Homo sapiens: one gene and its partner. The protein of the gene in region 1 purifies or fractionates together with the protein of each later gene. This does not show direct contact. Each region holds a gene or a part of one and is shown in the gene's direction. Other genes may lie near its edges.

Evidence for each region. The genes of interacting proteins can lie anywhere in the genome.
Region 2: the proteins of FOXR1 (region 1) and MBTD1 purify together in Homo sapiens (affinity purification with mass spectrometry; 4 studies listed by BioGRID and IntAct, with this or other methods). This does not show direct contact.

Annotation. Positions count from the first base shown.
Region 1 is NC_000011.10:118,974,750-118,978,401, forward strand, and holds part of FOXR1 (forkhead box protein R1), read left to right. Parts: intron 1-3,652. UniProt on the Homo sapiens protein: Transcription factor which acts as both an activator and a repressor.
Region 2 is NC_000017.11:51,204,530-51,208,181, reverse strand, and holds part of MBTD1 (MBT domain-containing protein 1), read left to right. Parts: intron 1-1,176; coding exon 1,177-1,294; intron 1,295-3,652. UniProt on the Homo sapiens protein: Chromatin reader component of the NuA4 histone acetyltransferase complex, a multiprotein complex involved in transcriptional activation of select genes principally by acetylation of nucleosomal histones H4 and H2A.

The DNA of each region.
Region 1 (3,652 bases):
GATTGGGCCAGGGTAGTAGCAGGGAGAACCAGCTGGCTATGCTGATGGATTGGATATGGCGTATAAGACAGACAATTGAGTATGAGCCTTCAAAGTGTTTTGACCTAGTGGAAGGATAGAGTTGCCTTGTACTGAGTGGGAGACAGGTTTAGGAAGGAAGATCAGGAATTCTGTTCTGGATATGCTGAGCTGGAGATCCTTAGACATCCAAGTAGAAGCATTGAGTCTGCAGTTGGATACATGAGCCTGGAGTTCTGGAGAGAAGTGGGGACTGCAGATGTAAATTTTGGGTCTTTTGGTATATGGGTGGAACTTAAGGAGTAAGAATAGAGGAGGAACAAGAATGAGCCCTGGGGGCAGTCCATTGTAAAGAGATTGGAGAGAAGAGAGATAACTAGCAAAAAAGACTATTGAGAATCAAAACTAGGGCGTCTGTGGTATCCTGGAAACCAAGTGGAAAAAGCCTTTCAAGGAGGGAGGGGTTGGATGAGTGGAATGTAAGTGATGATTGGACTTAACAAAGCAGAGGTCCCTGGTTAGTGGTTTTAGTAAGTGGTAGAACAAAAAACCTGACTGAAGGGGGTTTAAGAGTAGAAGGAGGGGAAGTAGAGGCAATGTGTTATGCCTCAACAGGAAATAAGATGGGATAATCTTTTTCTTTTTCTTTCTTCTTTTTTTTTTTTTTAGAGACAGGGTCTCTATCTGGTGCCCAGGCTGGACTGCAGTGGCACCAGCACAGCTCACTGCAGTCTTGAGCAGCCTTGAGCAGCCTTGAGCAGCCTTGAACTCCTCGGCTCAAGTGATCCTCCTGCCTCAGCTTTCCAAAGCAGGCTGAGATTACAAGCATGAGCCACTGCACCTGGTCCCTAAAATGGGAGAATTAACAGCATGTTTGCATGCTGATGAGAATGACCCAACAAAGACAAAAAATTAGTGACACAGGAAAGAGAGGGGAAGATTTGTGGAACAACATCCTTGAAAAAGCATGGGGGATCTGTGCCAAAGAGAGACACAGACATACAAAGGTGCTATCCTTGGGTCGCAATGAGATCACCAGTCCATTGATCCTATCACCTTTTCACTGTTTCAATCACTTGATATGTCCACCCTTATTTAACTAACTTGAATCCCATGGTCAGATATTACGCAGGTTCCCTGGATCATCTGTGGCTTTGGAGCACTTTGTTGGCCAAACCACAACCCTGACTAAATCCACCTCTGCCAAACGAGTGCGCCAAAACCATAATTCAGTGGACTGGTGACCTCAGTGGGATCATAGTTGGGGTTGAGGGAGTTAGCCAGAAAGACACGAGGTGGTGCGTTTTTATGTGGTGCATAAATGAGGTTACGGAGAGGTTGCAGTTGTTGGTTTAGGTTATGCCTGAGGGAGTGTCCACAGTAGAGTAGAAGTCAAACTCGCTGGAGAAGAGTTCAATAAATAGCAAAGATCATGTTTTTGTTTTTGAAGCAAGGTCTGGCTTTGTTGCCCAAGCTGGAGTGCAATAGCGTAAGCTTGGCTCACTGCAACCTCCCTTTTCCCGCTCAAGCCATCCTCCCACTTCAGCCTCCTGAGTAGCTGGGACTACAGGCTCACGCCACCACACTCGGCTAGATTATTATCTTTGTATTTTTTATAGAGATGGGGTTTCACCATGTTGCCCAGGCTGATTTCAAACTCCTGGGCCCAAGCAATCCGCCTGCCTAAGCCTCTTAAAGTGCTGGGATTACAGGCATGAGCCGCTGCACCTGGCCAGCAGCCAAGATTTAAGGCAGGAGTAGTGTTGGAGAGTGACAGCTAAACCAGGAGGTCAGTAGATGGTAGTAACAATGGAGATTGATTAGTATATAAGTTCCTGTATTAACTTGAATATATACATCCAGGAGCAGACAGTAAGGTCGAGTAAATTGTGGTCCTGCCTGATTGCTCTTAACAAGGGCTGCTCCAGTTGATACACAGAACTGCAGTAAAATAAGAGATTCTGTCTCTTTGCATGTTTCTCAACACTTGGTATTATCTTTATAATTCCAGTCAATTTGATTATCTCATTATCTTACAGTGTTTTTCGTATTATTAATAATGCTGATCATCTCGTTAGCCATTCAGTTATCCCCTCCTTGTGAATGCTGATTCATATCATTTGTCCATTTCTAAGTTTGTGTTGACCTTTTACATATTGATTTGTAGGAGCTCTCTATGTATCAGAGAACTGAGAAATTTGGATTGAAGTTTTGCTATTTTGTTTGTTTGTCTATTTGTTTTTTGCTTATGGTGATTTTTACTATGTTAGAACTTTTTTTTGAGACAGAGTCTTGCTGTGTCACCTAGGCTGGAGTGTAGTGGCACGATCTCAGCTCACTGCAACTTCTGCCTCCCAGGTTCAAGTGATTCTCCTGCCTCAGCCTCCCAAGTAGCTGGGACTACAGGTACACACCACCAAGCCCGGCTAATTTTTTGTACTTTTAGTAGAGATGGGGTTTCACCTTGTTGGCCAGGCTGGTCTCAAACTCCTGACCTCAAGTGATCCACCTGCCTCGGCCTCCCAAAGTGCTGGGATTACAGGTGTGGGCCACCGCACCTGGCCAAACTTTAATTTTTGTGCTATAATATGTGCATAAAACTTACAGATTCATTTTGAGGGTAACTGGCATCTTAATAGTATGTATTATAAGTCTTTGTTCAAGTATTTTAAGTTCTTTATTTAAGAGCTGAGATGGGAAGATTGCTTGAGTTGGGAGGTGGAGATTGCAGTGAGCCGGTGTCACACCACTGCACTCCAGCATGGGCAACCAAGCAAGACCCTGTCTCCAAAAAAACCCCAATTTTTCTATCTTTTGCTACTTTTTCCTTTTTTGAATACTATGTTGAATATTAGCAACATAATAGGCATCCTCTCTAATTACTGAGCTCTCCGATAAGTATATCATTTCTCAAACAAAAGCCTAGATTCATCTGTAATATAATGACACTCATAGGGACAGTGAGGGGGCAAAAATAGTTTTTGTCCTGAACAACCATTAATGGTGGTGCCACTTGCTAAGACAAAGAATACAGGAAGGCCAGGCATGGTAGCTCACGCCCGTAATCCCAACACTTTGGGAGCCCGAAGCAGGAGGATTGCTTGAACCCAGGGGTTCGAGACCAGCCCAGGCAACATAGACCCTCATCTATACAAAAAATACAAAAATTGGGCTGGGCGCGGTGGCTCAAGCCTGTAATCCCAGCACTTTGGGAGGGTGAGGCAGGCAGATCATGAGTCAGGAGTTCGACACCAGCCTGGCCAATATGGTGAAACCACGTCTCTACTAAAAAATACAAAAATTAGCCGGGTGTGGTGGCGTGCGCTTGTAGTCCCAGCTTCTTGGGAGGCTGAGGCAGGAGAATCACTTGAACCTGGGAGGCAGAGGTTGCAGTGAGCCAAGATCGCGCCACTACACTCCAGCCTGGGCGACAGAGCGAGACTCCATCTGAAAAAAAAAAAATACAAAAATTAGTGGGGTGCAGTGGCATGTACCTGTAGTTCCAGCTACCTGGGAGACTGAGGTGGGAGAATCTCTTGAGCACACCACTGCACTCCAGCCTGTGCAACAGAGCAAGACCCTGTCTCAAAAAAAATACAAGAATACAGGAGGAAGAGCAAGAAGATGGAATTCA
Region 2 (3,652 bases), on another chromosome or scaffold:
AATTCCAGAAACTACTAAGAGGGTAGGGGTTGAATGTTGTTTTAGGCTAATCCTCCTGTTGGGTGAGCATCCACCAAAGTAGGAGGGGCCTTGCATGGAGGACATTTGCCTAATGTTCAAATTGGCTAGTTCATGTAACTCCTAGATATCTTTGCTCATCTTTGAGCTTTGAGGCTATTTTGGTTTTTCCTGATTTGTTCATACTATCAAGTCTTTTATAACCTCACATAATCCTTTTCTTTATGATCAACATTCTAAATTGAATGAGGAACTGACTGTCCAGAGCAACACAAACTGTTTAGTGTTATCAGCATTTATATTCTTAAATTTGCTTATTTGATTTAATTTACCATTGCATAAGTTCCAAGTAATTGTGAATTGCCTTGAGTTTTAAAGATTAAAATATAATGGAAACAATACTTTGGGAACATCTGTTAGATTTCAGAAAATCCCTTCATGATGCTCATTTAATTGATTTTCCGAGTCCCCATCTTAACCATTTGCTGTGGGAGGCTAGTGATTACCGGTTCTAACATTGGAAGTTTTCTCTTTATAGTAATTTCTACATGAGAAATTTTGAAATAATAATTTAAATAGTTTACCATGGTACTCATCTCCAAAACTCTTCAACTCCACCTTCTTAATAACTTTATCCAGTGCTTTTCCCTCACGTCCATCTATGTGGACTAGATTTCTAATCTATGAATTTAATTTAAATTGAAAATTTTCATTTCTCTTATTCATGTTGTTGGAAACCACACTGCTGATTGGAATTGTTTTTCTTTCTGCTCTTAGGCCAGATCTTTTAAAAGTAGAAATTAGGGTGAAGTGTATTCACTCAGTACATATTAAAAATTTCTTAAATCAGTTTAATCCTATTAAATCTGCTATTGAGTTTGTAATTCCACTCATAGAAAAATCGCTGCTTAAATCTCATATTAGGACAGTATCAGATTTTGAAGTCAGCATGAATCTAGTCTAATATATGTGAATTTTCTCTTTATCTTGTTTGTCCCTGAAACTGGCTTTTTCCAGATAGAATTCTAGGAAACAAACGGAATTAAAATGACATTTTTAGTTTAATATTCCTATTATTGATGGTACTGCTTAATTTTCATTGATATGTTTTAGGCTTTATGTTAATAAGACAATAATTTAATGATTTTTATGTGACAGGCACCTATGGGGACCTGCTGGGGTGATATCTCAGAAAATGTGAGAGTAGAAGTTCCCAATACAGACTGCAGCCTACCTACCAAAGTCTTCTGGATTGCTGGAATTGTAAAATTAGCAGGTGAAAAGCATGAATAATAGTTTAGTAGAAAATGCAGAGATCCTTGTAACCTTTCGTAAAAAAAGCATGTTTATAAATTTTGCAAGTATTGCCAAATAAAAAATATGTTATGATATAGGGCAGGGGTTGGCAAATTGTTTTCTGTGAAAAGCCAAACAAATATTTTCAACTTTGCAGGCCATATGATCTCTGTCACAGCTATCCGTCTCTATCATTATAGCATGAAAGCACCCTTAGCAATACATAAACAAATGGACATGATTGTGTTCCAGTAGAACTTTATTTACAGGAAATTTGAATTTCATATAATAGTTATGTATCATGAAATATCCTTTTTTTCTTTTCAACCATTAAAAATGTAAAAGTAATTCTTAGATCACAGCCATAAAAATAATCCAGCAATAGACCAGATATATAGGCCATAATGTATATGTTACTTTGAAAAGTAACAAAAGTTGAGGTACTAAAAAAAGTGGTAAGAGCTGGCCACAGTGACTCATGCCTGTAATCCCAGCTTTTAGGGAGGCAGAGGCGGGAGGTTAGCTTGAGCCTAGGAGTTCAAGACCCACCTGGGCAAAATAGCGAGACCCATTCTCCATTTTAAAAAAATAAAAATAAAGTGGTAAGAACCTTAATACCAAATTGATACAAGTGTTGATAATTTTATATATCTTGGGTTCTTCCGTTCTGTTTATTCCCACTGCCTCCACCATACCAAGCCCTTTACTGCTCATGAAGTAAACATGTTAGGAATCTACTATGGTAGACAATGTGGACAAAAGATGATATCCAGAAGTATAAGACTTGTATTTTTTCCAGCATGTTCACATCGGCCAAATGTTGACTACTACCAGGTATTAATATGACAAGATACTCAGTGAGTAGTGTAGTAGGGCATTGTGGAGGAGAGGCAGGCAGCCACTCATAAGAAAAGTTATCTTCAATTACTACTGTGACAGATTTTTAACTCCTCCCACTCTCTCTAGTTTTATTTCCGGCATTCTCCTCAAAACACACTGTAGACTGCTCTGTTGTGTACTGCTAATTGACTTAATTTACCTAAAAATTATTTTAATTTTATTTTTCTGTTCAAGCATCTTTTATGGCCTCTTTGTACTTAAAGGATCAAGATAGCCAGCATTTATGACTATTGATGAGTTGCACCATATACCACATGCCAGATGTATTGTAGTTCTCCAGCATAAATGATCTGTTGTGATGAGGCCAGTCTCCCTCTCCCTTTCATACAGCACGTTTTTGTCACCTCTGTGCCTTGGGTTACTCTTGCAAGAGTGTCCCATCTCTGTACTGAACTGTACTACTACCCAAGTCAATTCCCCATCTTTTTCTTGAAACATTTTCCCAGCTGTATAAGCATTCACTAAATGCTTGTATTATTCTCTACACTGTAATTTAAAACAACAGCATATTATTTTTGCCCTGGGTGTTTAAGTTAGTTACATTTAAATAGCTCTTAAGATCAGTGCATTTACTATCCAAAAATTACTTCTGCCTTCCATCTCCGATTTTACATTTCTGTTTTATCTAACTGCATCATGTATCTTCTTTTAAGCCACTTTAATGCCATTGTAGAAGTGAGCCTAATGTTAACCAGAAGCTAGAGTTCAGCAGTAATTAGCAAACTCATAAATTGTTCTGAGAAATTATTGAATTTTAAAACTGAACATTTAAGGCTATAAATTTTCACAAACATGAAAATGCTGACTAAACTTGTCTCCTAACCTGAAATACACATATATTGGCCTTTTTCTGTTTCATTAAAGGCCTTAAATTAAATCGTAATCTTTTATCAACATAAAGTTTATAGAATTATAAATAGGATATATTACATATTTTTTGTACTTTCCAAGAGTAAGCCTTCCTATTTGCCTAAGACATAGTTTTTAACTCATTTTACATAATTTTCTTTGTGTTTATTGAACTTTTTACCTGGCATATTCAAATCTTATTTCCAAATACATACGACAGAAAAATTTAGATTCTTAAAGTAGCCACATTCAAATTACCCAGGAGTAATTGGCCACCTAAGCAGCTGGATAAAGCAATTTCTTTGAAATACATTTCAAGGCCAAGCACAGTGGCTCATGCCTGTAATCCCAGCCCTTTGGGAGGCCAAGGCGGGCAGATCACCTGAGGTTGAGAGTTCGAGACTAGCCTGGCCAACATGGTGAAACCCCATCTCTACAAAATACAAAAATTAGCTGGGCATGGTGGCGCACGCCTGTAATCCCAGCTACTCAAGAGGCTGAGGCAGGTGAATCACTTGAACCCAGGAGGCAGAGGTTGCAGTGAGCCAAGATCACACCACTGCACTCCAGCCTGGGCGATAGAGCAAGA